2 linked regions of the Homo sapiens genome follow. The protein of the gene in region 1 purifies or fractionates together with the protein of each later gene. This does not show direct contact. Each region holds a gene or a part of one and is shown on either strand. Other genes may lie near its edges.

What was found.
Region 2: the proteins of NIP7 (region 1) and RBM28 purify together in Homo sapiens (affinity purification with mass spectrometry; 2 studies listed by BioGRID and IntAct, with this or other methods). This does not show direct contact.

The regions. Positions count from the first base shown.
Region 1 is NC_000016.10:69,335,910-69,352,115, forward strand, and holds NIP7 (60S ribosome subunit biogenesis protein NIP7 homolog), read left to right. Parts: upstream 1-3,862; 5' UTR 3,863-3,920; coding exon 3,921-3,976; intron 3,977-4,096; coding exon 4,097-4,183; intron 4,184-4,284; coding exon 4,285-4,423; intron 4,424-5,270; coding exon 5,271-5,411; intron 5,412-5,623; coding exon 5,624-5,743; 3' UTR 5,744-7,197; downstream 7,198-16,206. Other genes in the region: COG8 (conserved oligomeric Golgi complex subunit 8), read right to left, coding at 596-803, 3,267-3,643; TMED6 (transmembrane emp24 domain-containing protein 6 precursor), read right to left, coding at 7,498-7,731, 11,879-12,027, 13,616-13,742, 15,632-15,844.
Region 2 is NC_000007.14:128,311,842-128,324,027, forward strand, and holds part of RBM28 (RNA-binding protein 28), read right to left. Parts: intron 11,751-12,186; coding exon 11,686-11,750; intron 9,584-11,685; coding exon 9,425-9,583; intron 6,266-9,424; coding exon 6,116-6,265; intron 5,893-6,115; coding exon 5,818-5,892; intron 3,180-5,817; coding exon 2,923-3,179; intron 1,434-2,922; coding exon 1,334-1,433; intron 1-1,333. UniProt on the Homo sapiens protein: Nucleolar component of the spliceosomal ribonucleoprotein complexes.

The sequences.
Region 1 (16,206 bases):
GTGGCCCTACCTGGCTCTCCATCTTCACCTGCTTCCTAGTGCTCTCCCGCTGCTACAATCCATTAACCCTGGCTGCCTCTGTATCCCTTAAACACCTCAATTTCTGCCCACTTCAGCCCTCTCTACTTGTTCTTCACACTTTCTGGTTTGCTCTCTCCCCAGATCTTTGTGGGCTGGCACCTCCTTCTCATTTAGGTCTCAGCTTAAATGTTACCTCCCTAGAAGAGTCCTTCTTGATCACCCTACCTAAAGAAACCTACCCTAGACTCCCTTACCCCATTCCCTGTTTTTTTCTTCAGACACCACTATCTGAAATGATATCATTTCTTTGTCAATTATCAGACTTCCCATTAGCACGTAAGCTGCATGAGAGCCAGGACCACTTTATTCACACTGTATCCCCAGCATATAGAGCAGTGCTTGGCACATGATTAATATGTATTTTGAATAAATGAATGTTTTCTGTTCAGGCATACCTGGCTGGCAGAAACTGATGTGAAACATGCAAGAGTTTCTACCTAAAGCTTCAGTCCTGACCACAGAATAAATGATTACAAGAACATTACTTTGAGTCCTCTCTGGGCAAGGTGGCTACCTGGATGACAGGGATGGAAGAGTATTTCCTCTCCAGTCGGCGTACGTAGGCTGCAAGCTCCAGGGCCTCTTCATAATAACTGTTCCGGACACAGGTGTCCATGAGCTGAGGAATCTCCAGTATTTCCAAAATTTCTGTGTGCCGGTTTAGGGTCAGGCTATTCATCCGGCGGTTGGAGCTGATCTCCTCGGCTTCCTTCACAAAGTTCCTAGTAATAATCAGAAGAATGTTGATCCTTCACTGCTCTGTACCCAAACCTTAGCTACAGTTACCAAGTACCTGCTATGAACATTGGGCTGGATGATCTATCTGATTTATTCCTCACACCCCACCTATAAGGTAAGTATTATTACAATTGAGGAAATTTTTAATCCCAGAGAGGTTAAGCAACTTGTCCAAAAACATACAATTAATAAATCTAACAGATGGAGATCCAGATATGCCACTTGCTGGCTGTGGCAAGGTACTTGGCCTCTCTGAACCTATTTCCTCATTAGTAAAACGGTATATAGGGCCAGGCGCAGTGGCTCACGCCTGTAATCCCAGCACTTTGGGAGGCTGAGGTGGGCGGATCACTTGAGGCCAGGAGTTCAAGTGAAACCCCATCTCTACTAAAAATACAAAAAATTAGCCAGGCATGGTGGTGCGCGCCTGTAGTCCCAGCTACTCAGGAGGCTGAGGCAGGAGAATCACTTGAACCCAGGAGGTGGAGGTTGCGGTGAGCAGAGATGGCGCCACTGCACTGCAGCCTGGCCAACAAAGCAAGACTCCGTCTCAAAAAAAAAAAAAAAAAAAGTATATAGGACCCTCCTCATAAGGGTGTAAGAACTAAATGAGATGATGTGTGTGAAGCATTTAACATAGAACTTGAAACAGAGCGAATGCGTCAAAGTAAAAATAGTAAAAGAGACACAGTTAAATATTTAACAGTAGCTATCATTATTTTCAAAATGAAGCACTAACTGCCTAGAATCCACAATCTTTCCCCTCAGGTCTTCATCTTCTCCTATGCTAATGTTCAACCATAGTTCCTGCCACAGTCTACTTTCAACACTTCTCCATATTTGCAGAGACCTGCTTTATCAAGTCCCCTATCTATTCTGGAGCATGGAAGGGTACAAAAGCTGCTGTCAAATATCCAAAGGCTCAAAAGAAAAATTAAACTTTAATCATGAAAGGCTGGAAGGCAGAACTAGGGATAATGGAGACAGAATATGACTCACAAAGGACTTTTTTTTTTTTTTTTGAGACGGAGTCTTGCTCTGTCACCAGGCTGGAGTGCAGTGGCACGCATCATCTTGGCTCACTGCAACCTCCGCTTCTCAGGTTCAAGTAATTCTCCTGCCTCAGCCTCCCGAGTAGCTGGGACTACAAGCGCGTGCCACCACGCCCAGCTAATTGTATTTTTAGTAGACATGGGGGTTTCAGCATGTTAGCCAGGATGGCCTCGATCTCTTGACCTCGTGATCCGCCTGCCTTGGCCTCTCAAAGTGCTGGGATTACAGGTGTGAGCCACCGCACCCAGCCTTTTTTTCTTTTTTTAAGAGAGTTTCACTTTGTCACCCAGTCTGGAATGCAGTGGCACAATCACAGCCCACCGCAGCCTCGACCTCCCAAACTGGAGTGCGGTGGCACAATCATGGCTCACTGCAGCCTCAATCTCCCGGGCCCAACTGACCCCCCCACCTCAACCTCCTGTGTACCTGGGACTACAGGCGCACGCCACCACGACCAGCTAATTTTTTATTTTATAGAGACAGGGTTTTGCCATGTTGGCCAGGCTGCTCTCGAACTCCTGGGTTCAAGCCTCAGGCTCCCAAAGTGCTGGGATTACAGGCTGAGCCACCACATCCAGCCATCCAAATGGAGAGACTTTTTGATATCTGATGCCCTCAAATGCGAGGATTTCCTTGTCACCTTCCCGTCAATGGAAGTTTTGAAGCAGATGACCTCCGGTCCACGCTTTCGTATAAAATAAGTATATAAATGTGCACATATATTCAGCTCACACCTATAATGTTAACTGTGTCAGACCCGATAATAAGAGCTTTGCATGAATCCTTTTTCTTTGTGCCCACAACTGCCCTTCGAGGGAGGGACGTGCTTCTGGGTAACCAGTTCTGAATTCGAAACCTCCTAGCTGTGTCCTTGGACGTCACTAATCTCTGTCTTGACTTGCTCATATGTAAAATGGAAATAACAGGGCTGGGCGCAGTGGATTATGCCTGTAATCCCAGCGCTTTGGGAGGCCGAGGCGGACAGATCACGACATCAAAAGATCGAGACCATCCCAGCCAACATGCTGAAACCCCGTCTCTACTAAAAATCCAAAAAAATTAGCTGGGCGTGGTGGCGCGCGCCTATGGTCCCTGCTACTCAGGAGGCTGAGGCAGGAGAATCGCTTGAACCCAGGAGGCAGAGGTAGGTTGCAGCGAGCCGAGATCTCGCCACTGCACTCCAGCCTGGCGACAGGGCGAGACTCCGTCTCAAAAAAGATAAAAAAGGAATAACAGTACCTATCTCGAAGGCTGTTGTGAGGTTTAAATGGATTAATAAAGCGCTCAGCAGAGAACCTGGAACGTGGTAAACGCTTTATGTGTTAGTTATTTCTACCATCGTAAATGTCAGCTTTTACAGTTATAAAACCCCTTTAGCGCCAGGCGCGTCGCACCTGCAGCTCTGCTGGAAGCTGGGCAAACGGTCGAGCAGGCGGCCGAGCGACGCCTCCACGTCGCCAAACAGGCGGTGGATGCGCTCGGTGCACTCGGCGCCGCGGATGAAGGTCTTGTAGTTAGCGAAGGCCAAGTCGCGCGTCTGCTGCAGCAGCTGCGCCCGCTCCTCCGCCAGGCGCTCGGGCTCGCGCCGCAGCCGCTCCAGCCCCGAGCCGCTCAACTCCCGGAGGTAGCGGCCCACATCGGGCCGCTCGCGCCACTGGGCCTCGGGGAAGCGGTCCCGGAACAGCGACGCCAGGAGCCCTTCATCCTCCACCTCGCCGAGAGCCGCTGCTGTGGCCGTGGCTACCGATGGGATAGTCGCCGCGGTCGCCATCTTCCCAGCAACAACGTCACTTCCCTTCCGGACCACAAGGGGCGCTGACTCCGAACTTAGGACAGGAAGAAACAGGCACATTTCCGGTCTCTATGCTTTCTCATCCGGCCGGCTTGCTTTCCCCTGCGGTCGTCCAGACTATTGGGCGCTAGCGAGACGAACTATTGGTACGGGGCTAGAGAGGAAGGCTTTGGGATTGCCGGGGAGCAGCGAGCGACCGACTTCCGTTTCCAGTTACCAAGGCACGAGGATCCGGTGTTCCAACCCAGGGGGAAAAATGCGGCCTTTGACTGAAGAGGAGACCCGTGTCATGTTTGAGAAGATAGCGAAATAGTAGGAGCGCGCGGGGCGGACGCGGGAGTGTGTGGGTGTGGTGGCCAAGGGTGGAGTGGGGGCGCGGTGCCGGAGACCGGTTCGTTCGGGCGCGGTCTCCAGTCCTCTTTTTGCCCTCAGCATTGGGGAGAATCTTCAACTGCTGGTGGACCGGCCCGATGGCACCTACTGTTTCCGTCTGCACAACGACCGGGTGTACTATGTGAGGTGAGGCGGGGCCGGGCAGGCAGCATGGACCCAGGGGAGAGGGGTCCTGGGTCCCACGAGCCTCCTTCATCCGCAACCTTGCTCCCCCTTTACCCTTTTAGTGAGAAGATTATGAAGCTGGCCGCCAATATTTCCGGGGACAAGCTGGTGTCGCTGGGGACCTGCTTTGGAAAATTCACTAAAACCCACAAGTTTCGGTTGCACGTCACAGCTCTGGATTACCTTGCACCTTATGCCAAGGTTTGTGGGGCGGTTTCCAATTCTGCCACGGGCGATGAAGTCAAGGATTAGGCAGATTGTCCGGCAGCTTCTCTCCCACAGAGTCCCTGACAGTGTGCTTGGAGGAGTTTCAGCACATGGAGATGTGTAGAGGTCTTGCAGCTTGAGCATGGTCAGGGCTATGGGATAGGAATGCTATGTGGCTGCGTAGGGTTAGTTTTCTCCAGCGAAGTAGAAGAGCCTAGGGAGACCCAGCTAGAGATCAGAAAGCAAATAAGTGGCAGCAATGAAGACACCGGGGTCCAGAAAAAGAGCTGTTAACCTGGCCATGGAGGATGATCCTTGTAGAGTTGAGAAAATAACTTTTTCTATTTTTTTCTTTTTCTTTCTTGCTCTGTTTTTTCTTTTCATTTCTCTTTCTCTTTCTTCCTGACACAGTTTCACTCTGTCGCCCAGGCTAGAGTGCAGTGGTGCGATCTCACTGCAGCCTCCACTTTCCAGTTTCCAGTGATTCTTGTGCCTCAGTAGCTGGGATTACAGGCATGTGCCACCACACCTGGCTGATTTTTTTGTGTGTTTTTAGTAGAGACAGTGTTTCACTGTGTTGGCCAGGCTGGTCTCGAACTCCTGGCCTCAAGTGATCCACCTGCCTTGGCCTCCCAAAGTGCTGGGATTACAAGCGTGAGCCACTGCACCGGGCAACTTCCTGCATTTCTGTTCAGGAGATAGACAGTTTGAGGAAAACATGAGTCTCTCTGTTTCCCTTAAAATTATTTCAGAAAATTATTCACAGATCCAGCAGCTAGCTTGTCTGCATGGATAGAAATAGTAACGTTTTTATGTCTCTTGGATTTTAATTCTCTTATAGTATAAAGTTTGGATAAAGCCTGGTGCAGAGCAGTCCTTCCTGTATGGGAACCATGTGTTGAAATCTGGTCTGGGTCGAATCACTGAAAATACTTCTCAGTACCAGGGCGTGGTGGTGTACTCCATGGCAGACATCCCTTTGGTGAGTAGAGATGGTAGCTGTTACAGAACTCAAGTACTCTTATTCAAGAAGGGTATGTCTTCAATCTGAGTGCTTGAGAGAATAAATTCTCAGCACGTTTTGAATCCCAGAAAGACCAGAACTGTATTTTTTCCGTCTTTGTTATTTCCAGCCCTCAATATGGGCATATTGAATGACTTCAGTGAGTTAGTGTCTCTTCTTTTGAATCCCAGGGTTTTGGGGTGGCAGCCAAATCTACACAAGACTGCAGAAAAGTAGACCCCATGGCGATTGTGGTATTTCATCAAGCAGACATTGGGGAATATGTGCGGCATGAAGAGACGTTGACTTAAAACGAAGCCATTCCAAGGACAGACGGCTGTATGGAAAGGCCGAGCTTTGTTTCCTGTGTTTGTGTGGACTCCACCATCATGTTGAATTTTGTCAACACTCTGGCCTCTTCAGGGACTTCTTATTTACTGTACTCTCTATCACTGACAAATGCAGGCTGGATTCTTATTATATACAGAGATGGCTCAAAAATGGGGTTTCAGATCTTTGTGACGAAATAGAATACTGTTTCATATTTGAATCAGAGGGCTTCTTGTTCTGAGAAATAGGTTCAAAATCATTGGAACCAGGAACAAGAATAGCTTATTGTTATCTGTGATAACACTGTTTTCTAAACACAAGGATTTTCTTTTTTATTAATATGCAACATAGACATTGCCATAACAGAATAATAAACCACATGTGGGGTTTTAAAAATGAAATTTGGCTAATAGGAGCAATTCAGCTATTTTTCTATACAGTAATTGGTGTGTGGTATAGAAGAAAAACGGGTTCAAACCCCACTTCTGCCACCTACCAGCTATATGGCCTTGAATGAGTCATTCAGCTTTAATAAGGTTCATTTTCTTCTGTTTAAAAAGACACAAAACTTGAAAATCAGCTTTGGCCATCTACCTGAGAATTAGAAAGTCTGATTTTTGGAATTAGAAATCATGATTGTAGGCTGGGCACAGTGGCTCGCGCCTGTAATCCCAGCACTTTGGGAGGCCAAGGCGGACGGATCACTTGAGGTTAGGAGTTTGAGACCAGCCTGGCCAACATGGTGAAACCCCATCTCTACTAAAAAAAAAAAAAAAATTAGGTGTGGTGACACATGGCTGTGGTCCTAGTTACTTGGGAGGCTGAGGCAGGAGAATGGCTTGAACTGGGGAAGCAGAGCTTGCAGTGAGCCAAGATGGTGCCATTGCACTCCAGCCTGGGCGTGACAGAGTGAGACTCCATCTGATTGTAAAGCATCTAGTACAGTGTACAGTGCCTTGGAAATGATAGGTATGGAATAAATGGTAATTATTTTTATATTATATATATTATGTATTCCTGTTATTAAGTGTAGAGTTTTATGAGTATAATTTGATTTTATTACCTTCTTTTTTACAAGCTGTTTTCTCAGTATTTTTCTTGGATGGGATGACGCTAGGCTGGAAAGTTTTTTTCATCACTATGATTTTATAAAACAATTTTTTCTATGAACCTTTACTTACTTGACTGGATTGGACTAAAAGCACTGATCAGAGGCCACGACATAAAAATTCAGTCCCTTTGTCCTTCCCCGTGCCTCCCAAAGTTACTTTAAGATCCTTAGAATATTTCTTTAAATATTTTATAGACAAAAAATTTAAAGACTATCTGTATTGCAAAATTAAACTATTTCTTTAATGAATATATTGCTTATTTTAAGTTCCAAAGGTGAAGTCTTTAAGAATAAAACATTACCAACTCCTGCTTTTATATGTAAGCAAACTTGATTGTGGCCTTTTTCAACTCATCTTCCTTCTAAGGTTTTCTGTTAGCCTCTAAGTAGACTCAGTGAAGGCTAAGGGACTGCTATATGATGAACAGTATTTTGATGCATACATTTAATACATACTTCTTCAGAACTTTTTCACTGTTATGATTTTATTGCCATTTTGCTTTTTTAGATGTGTGCAGCAGACTAAAACATTAATGAGATAATTGATTTTTGTCCCATAACATTACAAAGCTGATTCGACTAAGCCCCAGAAGAAAACAGCCAGGGTGCTATAGTCACCTTAGCTTAGCATCTTGGCTTCTTTGTATCTGTAGTTGTTGGAACATTGAAGAGACGCTTCAAGAAATACAGTTGCAGGATCCCAGAAAGAATAATAACAAGGCTCTGGGCTGTCGACCACCAGTTCACGTAGTTATAGTTTGATTGGATAAGGAAAAAGTCAGCCATTTTCCTCATCCGGGCAAAGTTGTAGTATCGCCACATGTGAAAGATATTGTTCTGCACCTTTTGTGTGCCGTCCTATGAGAGAGACAATTTTAAGGGGGATTCTTCCAAACCCCCATCTAGCCTCACCTGAGCGCTCACTAGCACTAACCTATCTCAAGTCAAATAATTTACCCATATGATTTTAAGATGTACAATACAATGATAGTTGTTAAATGTTGTGTTTGCTATGTATGAAATATGGTCTGGATTTGAGTTTAAAATTTTTGTTTTTGTTTTATGAGACAGGGTCTCACTTGTTTGCCCAGGCAGGAGTACAGTGGCGCAGTCACAGCTCACTGCAGCCTCAACCTTCTGCGCTCAAGTGATCTTCCCACCTCAGCCTCCCTAGTAGCTGGGACTACAGGCACATGCCACTACACCCAGCTAATTTTTTTTTTTTTTTATTGTAGAGACAGGGTTTTGCCATGTTGCCCAGGCTCATCTCGAACTACTGGGCTCAAGAGATCCACCCACACTGGCCTCCCAAAGTGTTGGGATTATGGTCATGAGCCACTGCCCCGGCCTTTTGTTTTGTTTTTAAATAATGGAAAACTTCAGTACTCAAACTAGAGAGCTCTTCCAGAGGACCTCTAGATTTAGATGTACTCAGCATGTCGTTACCATTCCAGGTGATGTTTTATGTTCTCTGTATATGGTAGAAGACAAGGGCCTGTGGACTTTTTATTAAAAGGCCAGATGGTAAATATTTTTGGCTTTGCAGGCCCCTGTGACTGCTGAACTCTTGCCATTGTAGTACAAAAGCAGCCACAGACAATATGTAATTGTCAAATGAGCATGGCTGTGTTTCAAGAAAACTTCCATTTACAAAAACAGGCAGTGAGCTTTTGTGCATTTAGGAGAGACTATTAAGAAAGTGAAAAGTGGCCGGGTGCAGTGGCTCATACCTGTAATCCCAGCACTTTGGGAGGCCGAGACGGGCGGATTACCTGAGATCAGGAGTTTAAGATCAGCCTGGCCAACATGGTGAAACACCGTCTCTACTAAAAATACAAAAATTAGCCAGGTGTGGTGGCACACGCCTGTAATCCCAGCTACTCGGGAGGCTGAGGCAGGAGAACTGCTTGAGCCCGGGAGGCAGAGGTTGCAGGGAGCTGAGATCGTGCCACTGTACTCCAGCCTGGCCGACAGCACAAGACTTTGTCTCAACAAAAAAAAAAGAAAAAAAGAAAGTGAAAAGTGGCCGGGCACGGTGGCTCGTTCCTGTAATCTTAGCACTTTGGGAGGCCAAGGTGGGCAGATCACCTGAAGTCAGGAGTTCAAGACCAGCCTGGCCAACATAGTGATACCCCATCTCTACTAAAAATACAAAAATTAGCCAGGCGTGGTGGCACCCGCCTGTAATCCCAGCTACTTGGGAGACTGAAGCATAAGAATCACTTGAACCCGGGAGGCGGAGGTTGCAGTGAGCCAAAATTGTGCCACTGCATTCCAGCCTAGGTGACAAAGCGAGACTCTGTCTCAAAAAAATATAAATAAATAAATAAATAAAAATACAAAAGTTAGCTGGGCATTGTGGCACACGCCTGTAGTCCCAGCTACTCAGGAGGCCGAGGCAGGAGAATCGCTTGAACCTAGGAGGCAAAGGTTGCAGTGAGCCAAGATCACGCCACTGCACTCCAGCCTGGGAGACAGAATGAAACTCCGTCTCAAAAAAGAAAAAAGAAAGTGAAAAGACATTGCCAGAATGGGAGAAAATATCTGCAACTCACATATCTTAGGAGGGATTTGTATCCAGAATATATAAACAAAATTCAACAATAAAAAGACAATTCAGGCAGGGTGCGGTGGCTCACGCCTGTATTCCCAGCACTTTGAGAGGCTGAGCTGGACAGATCACAAGGTCAGGAGTTCAAGACCAGCCTGACCAACATGGTGAAACCCCCGTCTCTACTAAAAATACAAAATGTAGGTGGGCGTGGTGGCACGTGGCTGTAATGCCACCTACTCAGGAGGCTGAGGCAGGTGAATCACTTGAACCCAGGAGGCAAAGGTTGCAGTGAGCCGAGATCACACCACTGCACTCCAGCCTGGACGACAGACTGACTCTCTCAAAAAAAAAAAAAAAAAAAAAAAAAAAAGTAAAATGGGCAAAGGATTTTCATTTTTTTGAGATAGGGTCTCACTGTCACAGCCTTGACATCCTGGGTTCAAGCAATTCTACCTAAGCCTCCCGAGTGGCTGGGACCACAAGTATGTGCCACCACACCCGGGTCATTTAAAAAGTTGTTTTGTTTGTAGAGACAGGGTCTTACCATGTTTCCCAGGCTAGTCTCAAACTCCTGGGCTCAAGCTATCCTACCTCAGCCTCACAAAGTGCTGGGATTACAGGTGTTGGGCCAACTGGCCTGGCCTAAAATGGGCAAAGGACTCGAACAGACATTTCTCCAAAGAAGAGAGATGGCCAATACGCACGTGAAAAGATGCTCAACATTATTAATCATTAGGGAAATGCAACTCAAAACCACAAGATAACATTTCACACCCACTAGGATGACTGTAACAAAAAATAAGTGTTGATGAGGAAGTAGAGAAATTAGAACCTTCATACACTGCTAGCAAGAGTTTAAAATGGTTTAGCCACTGTGGTAAACAGTCTCCAGTAATTCCACTTTCAGGTATACACAGATGAAAACATGCTAACACAAAAACTTGCATGCAAATGTCCATAGCCACGTTATGATAGCCAAGAGGTGGAAAAACCTAAATATCCATCATGTCCATTAACTGATGAATGGATAAATAAAATGTGTATCCATAAAAGAGAGTATTATTCAGCCATAAAAAGAAAAGTACTGATACATGCTACAACATGGATGAACGTTGAGAACATGCTAAATTAAAGAAGCCAGTCTTGGCTGGGCGCGGTGGCTCATACCTGTAATCCCAGCACTTTGGGAGGCCGAGGCGGGCCAATCACCTGAGGTCAGGAATTTGAGACCAGCTTGGCCAACATGGTGAAACCCTGTCTCTACTAAAAATGCAAAAATTAGCCGGGCATGGTGAGAGGTGCCTGTAATCCCAGCTACTTGGGAGGAGGAGAATCACTTGAACCCTGGAGGCAGAGGTTGCAGTGAGCTGAGGTTGCGCCATTGCACTCCAGCCTGGACAACGAGCAAAACTCCGTCTCAAAAAATAATAAAAATAAGCCAGTCACAAAATCCCATGTACTGTGTGATTCCATTTAAATAAAGTGTATAGAGGCCAGCCACAGTGGCTCAAAGTGCTGATTAATCTCGGCACAGTAGCTCATAATGCTGAGTAATCTCAGCTCAGTGGCTCAAAGTGCTGAATCTGAGCACTTTGGCAAGCCGAGGTGGGAGGATTGCTTGAGCGCAGGAGGTTGAGGCTGCAGTGAGCTGTGATCAAGCCACTGCACACTGCAGCCTGGACAAGAGTGAGACCCTGTCTCAAAAATTAAGTATAGAATAGGTAAATCTATAGAGACAGTAGAACAGTGATAGGCAGGCCTGGGGTAATAGAATGGAGAATGACTAATGGGGAGTGGGATTTTGAGGGTGGGGTGGGTGATAAACTTCCAGAATTAGATGCTGATAGTTGCACAGCCTTGTGAATATACTAAAAAACCACTGACTTACACACTTTTAGATGGTGTACGGTGTATGAATTATATCTCAATTTAAAGAAAAACAGGCAATGGGCCAGATTTGGCCTGTCAGCCATACATAGTTTGCCAACCCTTGGTATAAAACGAAGATGGAATTTCAAGAGCTTCAAGTCGTAATTTATTTTGAGACGGTGTCTTGCTGTATCCCAGACTGGAGTGTAGTGGCGTGATCTCGGCTTACTGCAACCTCTGCCTCCCAGGGTTCAAGCGATTCTCCTGCCTCAGCCTTCCGAGTAGCTGGGATTACAGGTGCGCACCACCACGCCCAGCTAATTTTTGTATTTTTAGTAGAGACAGGGTTTCACCATGTTGGAAAGGCTGGTTTCGAACTCCTGACCTCAGGTGATCCACCCACCTCGGCCTCCCAAAGTGCTGGGATTACAGGCGTGAGCCACCGTGCCCAGCCAAGTCATAATTTATGAAGAAATTCACATCCCCTTGCCTGTTTGGTTTCTACCTAAATGAAGTCATCTTCCCTCTGAAGTTAAAAATCAGTTTCCACAGATGTTTCTCTTCCACAAAACACTTCCTTACCTCAATTGCATCCAGAGTATCATTCAGTTGTTTTCTTTCCTTCTGTTTGTGATCAGTCTCAGGCCCCTCATAGAAGACCCCAAAGTTGAGGTACACTTGCACAGAACCGAAGTGATTATGCTGATTACTTAGACAAAGCTGATAAAAACCTGTAGGAATTCTTAGATCATTACCAAGTCTTTGGTCTCCTCCCCTTTGTTAAGGATTCCCTGGAGGTATCTGTCCTCTAGTTTTGGAATTCTACTACAGGACCTTCTTTTTACTTAGAAAGTACAAAGATCCCGTTTTTGACATGGAAGACACGGACCTTATGTTAAACTTATACTAAATATTACTTATTATATTTGGCCAAATTTTAGTAACTCGTTCTTTCCATACTGGGTAGTGGCAAACAATGTTTTCTCTTTAACATATAATTCCCACATCTTGTATTAAGGAACTCCTGCTCAACAGATTGAGTTGAAGTTAAGAGCATGGTGTTTGCCTGGTCCTTGTATACAATTAAAGCTAGGGACACCATCTTGAACTTGAAATTAGGAAAGACAAAAAAAAAAAATAGATGCATAGTGCATGAAAGCAGCTCTCCTGGAGTGATTGCCTCCAAGGCGGTGTGTACAGTGACTCATGGTTTGGTTATATCTGTTGGGGCTGGGGTTGCCTCCCTTTGTGTGTGCGGGGGGGAGGGGGGCGCGGGGTGGGGAGCGGGTGGGAAGGAGCAAGGTGGAGAGGACCGGTAGAAGATGGGTGGGGTGGGATTAGAAAGGTGTGGCAGTGTTTGAAAGTCAAAATGATTGGAAGGCACTACTGGCATGTAGGGGCCAAAGATGTTCAAGATCTTTTTTTTTTTTAGACGAGTCTCGCTCTGTTGCCCAGACCGGAGTGCAATGGCGCGCTCTCGGCCCACTGCAGTCTCTGCCTCCAGGTTCAAGCAATTCTCTTGCCTCAGCCTCCCAGGTAGCTGGGATTACAGGCGCCTGCCACCACACCCAGCTAATTTTTGTATTTTTAGTAGAGACGGGGTTTCACCATATTGGTCAGGCTGGTCGCAAACTCCTGACCTCAGGTGATCCGCCCACCTTGGCCTCCCAAAGTGCTGAGATTACAGGTGTGAGCCACCACGCCCAGCCTGTTCAAGATCTTTTAACACTGATACACATGCTGTGCTTCATAGTGAAGGACTGTCTGATGCCCCTGTTGAGAAAATGTCTTTTTTAGTGCAGCTGGCTATTAAAGAGGGCAGTTAAGACACTGCTGCTCTCCAAAGTGGGACAGGCTTGACCTGGCTGGAGGAGTGCTTTGCTGTGGAGTGTGGATATCTCACATGGATATCATGCATTTTCTTTTGTTCTGAATCTGCTTTTAGTAACTGACTCAAATATTCTGATGACTGGAAAGACATGCTTCCCTGTAATCCATTTGTTAATTGGAATTCTGTATTATAAATGGGTCTCTGTTTTTTGGTCACTTTCCCAGAATCTGATTAACTGGAGATGATGAGATAAAATTGAGCGGCTGAACCCTAGACTTAGAATGCTCACCTGGAGTGTTGCCCCCAAATCGTCAGTAGACTGCCACTTGGCATCCTTGGAGGTCAGCAGCCTCCAGGAACACTGGTTTTTGGTGTTAAAGGCTGAATTTTTTTCCTACTGTTAAAACATCTCTGTATACTTCCTCATTATTTCTGTAATTTCATAGGACCCTATGATTATTATAATAGCCATGGTAATGAAAACAGACCTGTCTCTTGGGTAGAGAAGTTAATCTGGCCCCGAACACCCTGGGAGGTGTCTATGAGAAATCCCTGTGGGTTATGTGCCGTGGCAGCAACATGCCGGTCATGTGACATCCCCACTGTCCGCTGAACCTGCCAAGACACATTAAATAGGTAGCAGAACCCCTGCTACATCACGAGGAAGCCAGCTGAGTGGTAAGATTGACGTCCCACGGTCATCAGCACAGCGGTCTCTGTCTGGGGTGGGACTGCCCAACCCCCTGCTGGGGTTTGGAGTTGATTGGAGGATTCTGAGGTATCACAGTGATGGTGTTAAGGGGAGGCAGCACAGCATTGCTGAACGTCTGCAATGTAAGAAACAGTACAGCAGGACAAAGAACTGCCCAGAATGCCAACAGCACCCGTGTGAAGAAGACATGCCTTGCTCGGAACACACAGCTAGTGTGGATCCACTAAAATGTATGATTCTGGGCCGGGCGCGGTGGCTCACGCCTGTAATCCCAGCACTTTGGGAGGCCGAGGTGGGCAGATTACAAGGTCAGGAGTTCGAGACCAGCCTGGCTAACATGGTGAAACCCTGTCTCTACTTAAAAAATACAAAAATTAGCCTGGCATGGTGGCGTGCGCCTATAATCCCAGCTACTTTGGAGGCTGAGGCAGGAGAATTGCTTGAACCCGGGAGGCAGGGATTGCAGTGACTCGAGATCATGCCACTGCACTCCAGCCTGAGCGACAGAGCAACACTCTGTCAAAAAAAAAAAAAAAAAAGTACGATTCTGGCTGTAGAATTTTTTATTTTTTTTGAGACGGAGTCTTGCTCTGTCACCCAGGCTGGAGTGCAGTGATCTTGGCTCACTGCAACCTCCACCTCCCAGGTTCAAGCGATTCTCCTGCCTCAGCCACCCAAGTAGCTGGGATTACAGGCACATGCCACCAAGCCCGGCTAATTTTTGTATTTTTAGTAGAGATGCGTTTTCACCATATTGGCCAAGGTGGTCTCGAACTCCTGACCTCAGGTGATCCGCCTGCCTCAGCCTCCCAAAGTGCTGGGATGACAGATGTGAGCCACCGCACCCGGCCTGGCTGTAGAGTTCTTGAATGAACTTGCTTGGTGGTTGAGCTCCCCAATGATGTCCCAGATTTGGGCATTTGCTGCTTGGCAGTGCACACCTACAACAAGCACTCCATGGACACTTGCTCCCAAGCTAGATCTTGATTAGGCCAGGCCACAGTGAGCTTAGTAGTGGCTGCTGTTCTAATAGAAATTCAGAGGTAAGAAAAGTCTCTGATAAGTTTATTTAAAATAAATGTTGTTACAGTGGAGTAAGATCAACAAAGTCTATTACTATGTAAACAAAAATTAGAAAGTTAACCGATTTCTAAGATAAAGAACAAAGGAAATGAACAGCCTCTAACTTTCATACTGAGTTCACCATCCTTGGACAGCATGATATAAGACCATAGTATGGGTAAAAGTACTTGACCTTTGAATAAGTAACTTGAAAACACTTACCGTCCTAAAAAAAAAAAATAGGATTAACTGGCCGAATACAAAAAACTTGACCTAGTGAATCTCTGACTTGCCAGAATTGCTCCTAAAGGCAGCAGAACCTTTACTCCCCCACCCCATAAGCTGAAGCAGCCTTCTTTGAAATCTCTGGATCAGTCTCCAAAGCACCATTATCCAATTTTGTTTTAATATATTAAAAATGTATTCTCTCCCCTCTCATCCCCAAATCCGAGTACATGTAATGATTACCTCTTCAGGGAGAGGCACCCCGTCTGCCCCATGGCTTTGAGCATGGCCCCTGATGTAAGAAGCCAAACCATATGTTTTAGCTCCTGTTGGTGATTATTCACCCAGCTGGAGTTTCCCTCTAACTGCAGGTCCATTTCATTAACAGGTGGGGAATCACAGCATAATAAAGACAACCAGACCTTGTTTTGGCCTAAAACCTGACCCACTTTATGAGTAAAGGAGAAAAAAAAAAGCCCCCCAGTATGGCCAGTCACCCACATACCTCGTAACTGAAATAGAAGTATCCAGTCTGGTGGGCAAATTGCCAAAAGCATTCCGTGCCTCCTGGAGGTATCATGATGGCAAAGTCATATCGATCAGCTCCACGGAAGAGTGGCTGGTCCCCAGAGCCACTTAGAGGTTCTGTCTTCTGGCTCCTGGCAGACGTCACTAGATTCAGAACGACCAGCCCAGCCCCAAAGAGCAAAGGGGACATGCCGCTTTCTGGAGCCTCCTCTGCAGGTGAACTGCTCGCAGCCCAGGGAAATCAAGTCGTTCAGACAACCGCTGGGCTAATGATTAACTCCACAAGTCACATTACGGCCCATTTCAGGGCCACACATAGATATTCATCATAGAACTGCCATGATACTCCCATGTTTGGCTCGCAGGAGGAAATTTTGCTTTCACCTCAAAAACTCAGTGGCTTACCAAACCTACTTCATGGGTGCTACATAGAATCTACCACCTCAGAAGAGGTCTTTCCACCCTTCATTAGGGCTGTCATTTTTTAGTTCCTGCTTCTTGGGGATATAATAGTGGGTAAGTTTACAACTTCTGAATACACTGACAAAAAGT
Region 2 (12,186 bases), on another chromosome or scaffold:
TTTCTTTCTAGGGTTCTAATTAAAAATGCAAAAGGATAGAAGTTTAAATAATCAGCATTCTGTAACCCATAATGAAATAATGGATCTGGTAACACTCATCAATAACTGCTAAGGCCATTACATGAAAGGCTAATTGGGAACTTCATCAATGGAGGGATAAGGCAGATAATCCTCAAATCTACTGATCAATCCCAGAATCACTAAAAATGGGCAACCAGGTAGTATGTGCCTCAGGCGATATAAGGAAACACACACACCACCTATGAAATACTCTCTTCAAGAAAACTGAACTTGAGGCCAAGCACGGTGGCTCACACCTGTAATCCCAGCACTTTGGGAGGCCGAGGCAGGCGAATCACCTGAGGTCAAGAGTTCAAGGCCAGCCTGGTCAACATGGTGAAACCCCGTCTCTACTAAAATACAAAATTAGCTGGGCATGGTGGCGCATGCCTGTAATTCCAGCTACTCGGGAGGCTACTCCTGGAGGCGGAGGTTGCAGTGAGCCGAGATTGCGCCATTGCACTCCAGCCTAGGCAACAAGAGCAAAACTCCACCTCAAAAAAATTTTTAAAAAAAGAAAACTGAACTTGATCAAGCTACCAGACCGAACTAACTACCAGATGACAGGCAATATGGGGGTGTCACAGAGACAAGTTAAATGACACCACAAAGAAGCAAATGGCTAAATTAAAAATGTAACACAAATGACCTGGTTTCTCCAATAAATGAATAGCATGGAAAAAAGGGTGGTAAGGGAGAATGGATATTAGAGAAGAAAAAAATGATTTAAGAAATTAAAAACCCAAGTATAATGTGGGACTTTGGATCCCGACTCATACTAACCAAGTATAAAAAAATTTTTTTCAGGCAATTTGGCAAATTTTAATATGGATTTAATATATCATTTGTGTAGTAGATGATAAAGGGCTTATTAGTTTCATTAGATATTATAATGGCATAAGGTGTGTGTGTTTAAGGCCTGATCAGTTAGAGATGCACTCTGAGGTTTTTCTGAGCAATATGTTTCATTTTCATATGAGACGCATTTACATGTGAAATGGGCTTTGCTTTAATATACTCTAGTGGGGAAAGCATGTTATGGGGAATATGTAAAACAAGGAGACTGCTGAAACACAGGAACAGATACGTGGAGGTTCATTTTACTTTTTTCTCTCCACTTTTAAGATTGTATAGCTCAACATTCTCTAAAAAGCTACCGTCCTACACAGAAGTCTTTCTTTTTTTCTTTTTTGCTCAACTAACCAAGGTACAAACATGGCTACGACCTGGCAGAACCATGCCATACCAAAGCTGTATGTCCTGCAGAACTCACCTGCTCGGACGATAATTGCTGCTTCTCCTGCTTCCACTGGTTTATCTGTGGCTTTGGCTTTTTGGGATGGACGGGCTTCACTTTGCCTTTGTCCCGCAACCTGAAATAACATGGCTGAGTGTCACCTTGAGTCCTTCTTCTAATTTGACACCCCTAGGTTCTCTTTGTACACTGGCCCTTCCCAAGCCCATGATAAGTGAAGTCATTCTAAAAAGGGATACTGCAACAGACCCTCTGAAAGCTCAACATTTGTATACTTAGGACTGCTTGATGCCAGGAGTTTGAGACCAGCCTATGCAACATAGCAATCCCCCGTCTCTACTACAACGAAATTAAAAAGTCCCAGCTACTCAGGAGGCTGAGGAAGGTGGATTGAGTCCAGGAGTTGAGGTTACAGTGCGCTATGATCATGCCACTGCACTCTAGCCTGGGCAACAGAGCAAGACCCTGTGACATGGTTTGGATCTGTGTCCTTGCTCAAATCTCACGTTGAATTGTAATCCCCAGTGTTGAAGGCTGGGCCTGGTGGGAGGTGACTGGATCATGGGGATGACTCCTTCATGAATGGTTTAGCGCCATCCCCTCAGTGCTGTTCTCGTGACGGTGAATGAGTTACCACAAGATCTGGTTGTTTAAAACACTCCCCCCTGCTCCTGGCCATGTGATGTGCCAGCTCCCACTTCACCTTCCACTATGATTAAGTTTCCTGAGGCCTCCCTAGAAGATGAGCAGCTGCTGTCATGCTTCCTGTACAGCCTGTGGAACCATGAGCCAATTAAGCCTCTTTTCTTTTCTTTTTTTTTTTTGAGACGGAGTCTCGCTCTTTCGCCCAGGCCAGAGTGCAGTGGCGTGATCTCGGCTCACTGCAAGCTCCGCCTCCCGGGTTCACGCCATTCTCCTGCCTCAGCCTCCCCAGTAGCTGGGACTACAGGCGCCCGCCACCGCACCCAGCTAATTTTTTGTATTTTTAGTAGAGACGGGGTTTCAGCATGTTAACCAGGATGGTCTCGATCTCCTGACCTCGTGATCCACCCGCCTCGGCCTCCCAAAGTGCTGGGATTACAGGCGTGAGCCACCGCGCCCAGCCAAGCCTCTTTTCTTTATAAATTACCCAGTCTCAGGTATTTCTTTATAGCAGTGGAAGAACTGAATAATACACTGTCTCTAAAAATAAAATAAATAAATAAATAAAACCCCATGGATATCTCAAAAACCTTCATTTATTTAACAAATATTTTGTAAAGATTTACTTTTGTAGAGCACTAATCTGCTGTCCCAAACAGAAACTACAACTGAACCTCAAGTATGTGGTCTCAGCTGGCAGAGATGGCCATCTGGACAAGAGGAAGCTCTTCAAAAGAGGAGAAAAGGGGCACAAAAGCCTGCCCTAGGAGGCCCCTCTGCCATTGATCTAAGAGTGACATCTCTGATGGTGTTGAAGACTCGCGTGTTAACCCCATGTGTGGGAATACATAGCACCAAACATCCTTTTCAACCAAACAAATGCCACAAAGAGAAAATAACTCAGCAAAAACAAACCCGCTTAGAACCCACCCACTGTTCTGTGCTTCTGCCCTCCTGCATCTCACCTGATTTTGGGGCCTCGGTGTGAGGGGAGCGCCAGGACCTTTCTTCTCTTCTTTCCATCAGGCAGCTCCACCTGCTCCACTTCAGCCTTGGTCTGGAACCCGGTCCATGAGGTAGAGCCCGCCTTTCTCTTCTGCTCTGGGGGCACCTTGCTTTGTTCCTCTGTGTGGTGTTGAGCTGCCTTCTGTTGCTGGTCTTTTGCAGGCTCTGGTTGCCCCTTCTGAGGCTCACCAGTTGCAGGCTTGGATCTCATTTTTTGCTGCATAAAACAAGAAAATGCCATCTGGTTTCTGGATGAGCTTTGTTTGCTGCAAATACTCAGCAGAAGATGAGCTTTATGTGAGCTAGATGAAAGAAGAGGAATTCTTCCCCCACACAATTGGAGACTAGAGGAAAGTGAATACATGTAGATCACAAGCCCTGCCACAGTAACAGATGGTTACTGGGTGGGGGGCACAAAATAACCATTCCCCTTCCCATAACACAGAAATAAGGGAGAGTGCATGCCCAAAATTCAAAAGTCAGTAGGTGGGACAATTATCAAAGGTGTAACCTATGTAGAAGGAGAATACAAGAAGAAAGCAAGCAACAGAAAAGATAATGAAGTAATAAGGGCTGAGAATTTTTCAAAACTAATGACAGTCACTAAACCACAGATCTAGGAACTCAGAGAAGACCAAATAAGATAAATACTAAACAATTTACAACCAGTCATATCATAGACAAACTGCAGAAAATCAAAGATAAAATCTTGAAAGAAGCCAGACAGGGGAAAAATTTTACCTATAGAGGAACAAGGATGAGATTACATCAAATCTCTCTCTCTTTTGTTTTTAATAGGCACCCTCCCAAACCAGAGTAGATTGAGAGAGATTTCCAAGACTTCTCTTCAGAAACCATGTAAGCAAGAAGGGAGTGAAGTGAGATATTTAATATTTAAATTTTTAAAAGAAAAAAAAATCACCAACCTACAATCCTGTATCCGATAAACTTATCCTTCAAAAGTGAAGGAAAAGACTTACTCAGACAAAAGAAAATGGAGAGAATTTGTTGCCAGTAGACCTGTCTGCAAGAAATGCGAAATAATCTCTTCAGAGAGAAGAAAAATGACATAGGTCAGAAACTGATCGTTTTCAAGAAAGGAAGAACATCAGGAATGGAATAAATGAAGTAAAGACGACAAGAAAAAGATGCTGTGGGAAGGAAGGCATCAAGGAAGTTATAGAAGTATTTGCACTGAAGTGGAAGAAACAGAAGATTCAAGTGAAATTAATGTAATGATAAGTGTGTGTTGTTCTTCCCTTTCACCTTAGAAATCTAGATAGGTACAACGATACAATGAACATTTATTATATGCCTAGTGTGTGCCAGTCTGTTTCCAGGATACAAAAAAATAGTGTCTACCCTTCAGGACTCACAGCCAGGTGGAGATAAGAGATGCATTCACAAATAAACCAAAGTAAAAAAAACTACACAGCTTAAGGAAGTTCATGAAAATCAAGTAAAGAGGGCCTTATATCTTTTGAGAGAGGTGGAGGCATGCAACTTGAAAGAGATCATTTGATCTGCATATGCAAAGTGAGTAGAGGCATTTTTACACAGAAAGAACAGTATGAATATAAATCCAGGCAACAAATAAAGTAATTTGGATGTTAAAAAACAAACTAGGCTGGGCTCAGTGACTCACGCCTGTAATCCCAGCACTTTGGGAGGCTGAGGCAGGTGGATCACTTGAAGTCAGGAGTTCGAGACCAGCCTGGCCAACATGGTGAAACCCTGTCTCTACTAAAAAAATACAAAAATTAGCCGGGTATGGTGGTGTGCACCTGTAGTCCCAGCTACTCAGGAGGCTGAGGCAAGAGAATCACTTGAACCCAGAAGGTGGAGGTTGCAGTGAACTGAGATTGTGCCACTGCACTCCAAACTGAGCGACACAGCAAGACTCCATCTCAAACAGAAAAACAAACAAAACTGGTAGCTTCAGAATCACCTCTGAAACAATGGCTAACAGTAATAAACAATTCTATTATCTGGGGAACAAAGTTGCCTTGAACAATAACCAGATCCCAGATTTTCCAACCTAGGGCCACTGCATTAACCACCAGAATGGCTCGTCTGTTGGTAATCCTCTTGGTATATACCACAAAGACTACAAATGTTTGCTGTATATGCAAGGGAACTTTGCTGTGCAATATCAATGAGAGCTCTAAGAATGACAGAGTCAAGAATAATCTGGCCCTGTATGTCCTGGGGGAAGATGGGTAAGAGAATGAGTACTGACTGCGTGCTGACCATGCAGTATGCTAGACGATGGACATGTATTATCTCATTTAGTCCTCAGCAATCATGTGAGGCAGATGTTGTCCACCCCATTTTACAAACTGAAGTTCAGAGCGGTAATAACTGCCAAGGAACATGCAGCAAAAAGGGCAGAGCCAGAGTATGAGCATGAGTACACGTATTCCTAAAGTCCCTGCTCCACCTTCTATACCACACCAGATTAAAAACAGTACTAAAACTATCAGGCTTCACACTTCTGGAGCCAACTAATAAAAGAAAATATGGAAGAGATAACTGAAATCTACAGGTAATGGGAAACCTTAACCTCAACCATTAATTTTGGCACGTACTATCACCAAACACTGTAAAAAACGGCTGACTGGAAATAACATTGGTCTGCTTCCTCTCTCCTTCCTTTCCCTTCTGCTGTAGAGCTATCAGACATGGGCCAGCAGATAAGAAGATGGCCTGGAGAGGCTTAGGGAACTGGGAGTAAAGGGAACTAGGAGCAAAAAAACCTAACTGAGGGGAGAACTACTCTAAGAGAGCAGAAGCACAAATTGAACAAAATAGAAGAGTTTATGTCCTTAAAAATATGGACCATTTAATTTCTGTACCAAGCTGCGCTGGATCCTTAATTCCTTCATTTTAAGTTTTCTTCGATCTTCTAAAGAGAACTCCACTATTGGTCTCTGTCAGAGGGAGACAGAATGCCATTCATTAGACTTCTTAATCTGTGCATGCAATGAGCTGAGTTTTTCCCCTTCACACATCCTCCCCCAACCCACCTTTTTTTTGTCCACTTGCCACTGTTTCCCACCCCTCAAATGTCAGAGGACACTAGGCATAAAGGAGAAGGCTGGTTTCCTGCAAGTGGTCCTAAGGGAACAAGTCTCCCCAGAGGACAAGGCCTACCTTCAGAGGCCCAAAGATTTCTGGATTGTTGTTGATGAGGCGGAGGGCTTTCAGGGCATGCTCGTGCTCTTGGAACTCCGCAAAGGCGTAGCCCAGGGACTGACCCTTCATGTTCCCATGAACTCCTTTGAGGTCTCGCATCACTCTACACTATGAGTAGAGCAAGAAAAAAATCAGTAATTACAGAATGAGAAGACTTGCCTGACATGAACTGCTTTAATAGAGTCAATAAGAAATCAGGCTATTGGGTGGGCATGGTGGTTCATGCCTGTAATCCTAGCACCTTGGGAGGCCGAGACAGGAGGATTGCTTGAGGCCAGGAGTTTGAGACCAGCCTAGGCAACATGGCAAAACCTTGTCTCTACAAAAAATACAAAAAATTAGCCAGTGTGGTGGCACCTCAGCTACTCAAGAGGCTGAAGCAGGAGGATCACCTGAGCCCGGGGAGGTTGAAGTTACAGTGAGCCATGATGGCACCACTGCACTCCAGCCTGGGCAACAGAGTGAGACCCTGTCTCAAAAAAAAAAAAAAAAAATCAGGTTATTGAAACATAATCTTCATTTATACCACCATCACAAAAATCACACTGGAATAACACTTATGTGTGTCCATCTTATTAGAATTTACCTACTAAGACCATCAAACAGATTAAAATTGTATTTTCTTGCTTTCTACTAGCTTATAGACATCAACAGAGACCTAAAAAAAAGCACATAAACAAAACTTCCTAAAGAAAATTTATAAAGCGGTATGGATGTTAAAAAACAAACACAATACAAACACAACTGTTTGCGATACATACAAATTGAGAGGTACATGGTATTTTAAGCGTGTAACAAGTTGCTGCCGAGGATGGAGTACTGTCCACAGATCTTACAACTGAAAAAAGCCCTCAGGAAGGAAATTATTGAAGAAGGAAAGGAGGAAGGCCTGATGGCTTTAGATAAGAAAGACATTTCAAGCATAGGAAAAAGTCTCTCCAACATACAGGGTCAGAAATATAGGAAGAAGTTTCAGCTCTCTTTGCTTGCAGCTCAGATCCTCTCTAGTGTGGTTTTCCCTTAAATCCTTAAGCCAGATGTAGTAAACATCTGGGGCACCAAAGTATGGTAGGATTTTTCGAGAAAACTGATCATTTACATGCCATTACTACCAAAGCTGTCGTTCTCATGTAATGGAAACAGCTAAGTATTGGGGATGCATGGATGCCGCATTTAGTTTATGTCCAGTGTCCACTCTGTGCCTAGAACTGTCATACACTGTAAGGGAATCAAGAGAAGCATATAATGAAGATCCTGTTCTCAAGATGCTTACCATCTTACTGAGACACTATACATACAAATAGGAAAGAATTAAGAGGAAAATTCAACATAATGCAAAATATTCTAGAATAAACATAAATTTCTCTAAATTATGACAGGTGTTAAATATGTAGGCACTAAGTATTCGGATGATAGGAGAAATTACACAACTGTCCCTCCCCTATAACCAGTAACACTGAGCAGTTTTACTAACTGTGGTGTCAGATATGTGCTGATATATTCACATTCTCTCAAGTAATCTCCCAAATACCAATCCATACATTTTGAAGAGGTTTTCAGGGATTAGGAAAACAGTTTATGGTAGCGAAACAGAGTAAAGCAGGCCCAAAATATTGGCAATGGTACTTTTAAAATAAATATTGACTAAGAGATGACTATGTACCAGGTACTACACCAAGGATTGGGGATAATGAGATAACGCTTGCCTCAAAAACTCAGTCTAGTGGGGAGAAGTGACTGACAGACAGTTTGAGGCCAGGGTAATAGTAACCAGTATGACAGAGATATGCAAGGCCAGGCCCAGTGGTTCACTGTTATAATTCCAGCACTGTGGGAGGCCGAAGCAGGGGAATCATCTGAGCTCAGGAATTTGCGACCAGCCTGGGCAACATGACAAAACCCTGTCTCTACCAAAAACAAGAAATTAGTCAAGCATGGGCTGGGCGAGGTGGCTCACGCCTGTAATCCCAGCACTTTGGGAGGCCGAGGCAGGCGGATCACTTGAGGTCAAGAGATCGAGACCATCTTGGCAACATGGTGAAACCCCGTCTCCACTAAAAATACAAAAATCAGCTGGGCGTGGTGGTGCATGCCTGTAGTCCCAGCTACTCGGGAAGCTGAGGCAAGAGAATCGCTTGAACCCGGGAGGCGGAGGTTGCGTTGAGCCGAGATCATGCCACTGCACTCCAGCTTAACGACAGAGTGAGACTCCGTCTCAAAAAAAAAAAAAAAAAAAAGAAAGAAAGAAAGAAATTAGCCAGGCATGGTGGTGTGTAACTATAGGCCCAACTACTTGGGAGGCTGAGGTGGGAGGATTGCTTGAGCTTGGGGGGGGGGGGGGTGGCGGTTTGCAGTGACCCGAGATGGTGCCACTGCACTCCAGCCAAAGACAGAGCAAGACCACATCTAAAAAAAAAAAAAGAAAGGAAGAAAAGAAAAAAAAGAAAAGAGAAATACGCAAAGGGGAATGTGGAGGCAGAAAAGTTCTGTACTCACACAGAGTCTAACCAAGTTGGTGTGAACCCAGTGTTTTTCTAATTCAACTGCTGAACATCTACATGGCTTCCTGTGTTGACCACAAGGCATAGGGGACTCTGAACACAGGGTAAGAATCTAACTAGGAGTAAAATACTCTTCCAAAAAGCAAAGCAGATTATTTTCTCTGCAAGAAAATTCACATGATAGCACAAAGTATAATGCTAAGCACACAACAGGCATTTAATAAATGCTTGCTAAATTAATTCATGCAGACAGAGATTTCCTTGCATTCTGCTGTAATTCAGTCAGATGTAAAAGACAATTCTTAGAAGAAAAAGAACAAAACCAAGAAACTGCTAAACTCAGCTATGCATGCTGACAACATGTCCAGAAGAAAGTCTGTTGATGGCCCGGCACAGTGGCTCACGCCTGTAATCCTAGCACTTTGGGAGGCCGAGGTGGGCAGATCACTTGAGGTCAGGAGTTCGAGACCAGCCTGGCTAACATGGTGCAATCCCTTCTCTACTAAAAATACAAAAATTAGCCAGGCGTGGTGGCGCACGCCTATAGTCCCAGCTATTCAGGGGGCTGAGGCAGGAGAACTGCTTGAGCCCAGGAGGAGGAGGTTGCAGTGAGTCAAGATTGCACCGCTGCACTACAGCCTGGGCAACAGAGTGAGACTTCGTCTCAAAACAAACAAACAAAATCTGGCACCACAGCCTGAGGGAAATGCTTGATCTGACCCAAGATCAGAATGAAAGCTCCAAAATGGTCAGGGCCACGTCTCACCTCCTTGATGCGCACCCCTTTCTCTCCACTAGTAGCACTCAGCAGCAGCTTTCTGAGCTGTTTGTCATCTACAGCCTTTGGGAGATTGTGCAGGCAGAGCCTGGTTCGGGAGACAAAGATATTCTGGTCCTTGAGTTTCTGATGCTTCAGCAGCTCAAACTGAAAGAACAACCAATGGTTAACAGTACAACCCACTCTTTTTAAGAGGTAGGCTCATAATTCTCCAAAAGGAAAGAATTATGATCCTCATCCCATAACCACACATATAGAAAACGGATGGAAACTGCCCACACCGCAGCTTTACAATGCCTAGTATAGGGAAAGAAAAGTCCAAGGGAACAAGATGGTGGGTGGGTAATAGTAAAATCATAGGCTCTGGAGACCCATCCCTAACTGGAGAAATTACATAAAATTTTAAAGCCACAATTTTTCATCTATAAAACGAAACAGTAGATCAAGGTCTCTGAGCACTGAGGTGAGGCCAAAATGAGATAATATAAGGCTGGGCAGGGTGGCTCATGCCTGTAATCCGAGCACTTTGGGAGGCCAGGGCAGGCAGATCACCCGAGGTCAGGAGTTCAAGATCAGCCTGGCCAACATGGTGAAACCCTGTCTCTACTAAAAATACAAAAATTAGCCAGGCATAGTAGTGCATGCCTGTAATCCCAGCTACTCGGGAGGCTGAAGCAGGAGAATCGCTTGAACCTGGGAGCCGGAGGTTGTGGTGAGCCAGGATCGTGCCATTGCACTCCAGCCTGGGCAGCAAGAGTGAAATTCGGTCAAAAAAAAAAAAAAATTCCCTAGCTCAAAATGTAGCTCAGAACAAACAACAAATAATACTGTGATTAATATCTATGCCCAGTCCTCATCTACCCACCAGCTCAACTGATTATCTAATCCTTCCAAAAGGAAATGGAAGTTATTCAAAGAATACTTGACAGAATGCTGTGTTGTCTCAACTCTGCCACCCTGAGGCAAAGGAGTATCAATGACCACAGAACCATATTTTGCTCTTAGAGCAATACCCTCAACTATGCTGCCACAAAACCCCAGTTCCTGCGTGATCTGTGTCTAAAATGAAATGAAAGATGACATTCTTCTCCCAATTAGTTTTTTTTAAACCAAGTTGGTAGAAAAAAGTTTTCAATTAAAAGTTTTTCTTTTGTCAAGTCTTCTCAGTCCTGCTGCTTCTTGTTTGGTAAAAGTACCAACAGATCACAAAATAAACAAATCCCTTGGAAAACGACTATTAAAGGAACATCTGAAAAGGCTATCATGTTTAAGTTCAACAGACTATTTTTCTGTCAGGAAAAGCTGTGCCTGCTGTGAATTTATAATGCATACCTATCATTGAATGAGCTTTTTGCTAACAAAATTAGTTTTAAATTAAATATGTCATTATTGCACTGTGATCAGACAAGGGTATATAGTGCCCTTATAAAATTGAGGCTTTAAAATTTTCTGTAATTTCTCCAGTTAAGGATGGGTCTCCAGAGCCTATGATTTCTAGGTGTTCACTACCACAAAAGTTGAAAACACTAGTGCAGAATCTGTGCCCACTGAAAAAAAGACGCACTGCCTCCTGCTGTCATTACACTCTCACCCCTGTTCCTCATCTGCATGTTAAGGTTCCATAGCTAATTCTGTTCACAGTTATGCATCTTTACCCTTCTAGGCTGGCTTGGCTTTTTGAAAGTAAGTTATATGGGAAAAAGTAAAAATTACTGGGAACATTACCAAGCAGCAAAGGAATATGAGTTATCGGTTAACATCGGAAACATCCATAAAATGGAGTTTTTCTAAAATGATTTTATAATCTGGAGATTATAACTCCTCCCAACTGACAGCTACCCCTTTCAAGAGCCATATCTTCTCCCTTCTCTAATAACTCCAGCTCATTCTGATCTTCCTCTTTTACATTATTCTGTGTTTATACTGACACCTAATTACATGTAGCAATAGCCTCTGACTGTCTACTGCATGATGTAGCAGCATGTGTTCAGCAAACATTTACTGCCAAGCACTAGGGAAACAAATAATAAGACACAGTTCTTTTATACCAGCATACAAAACAGATAGAATACTATGTATGATGTTGGGTTACTTGCTATTTCACCTATGTGCTTTTCTCCCTAACAGGGCAATAAGTATGGTCTGTGACCATACTGGGCTCTTTGATGAGCACATCTAGCATTCGATAACTATTTTTGATTGATTTATAGGCCACGCAGAACGTGAAGGTCAATGCCTAATCTACTCACCCGTTCTCTTTTGGCCATATCAGCAGCACTCACACCCTCTGCAGCCTTCGTCCCAGCACGAATCACTGCAGAAAGAGGGAAAAAGGCCAAGACATCAACAAGGGAATTTTCACTGAGCAACAAGAGGAATGTGATTTGAATGATGCAAACTCTTTGTACAGGGCCCAGAGGACTATCTTGGCCAGGACACGGTGGCATTTGGTTAGGTCCAGAAATAGGCTACAGGGCTAAGTTCTGGGCTCAGAGCTGCTCTCAAGGACTAAAACTCTAAACATTTTGTGATTTTATTCCTCTTCTCCTTCTCTCCCCTCAAAGAATCTTCACGTACATGCCCAAAGTCAGAAAGAAAGGCCTAGAAGAAGTATGGAACATAAGTACATTTTGGGCATTTAGAATGCACAATGTTCCACCTATAATCTGCCCTTGGAACTTAACTTTGCTGTTCCTTATATACTTGAGGTCCATTACTAAACAGTGAGATAAGCCAGCCGAAAACAGTTA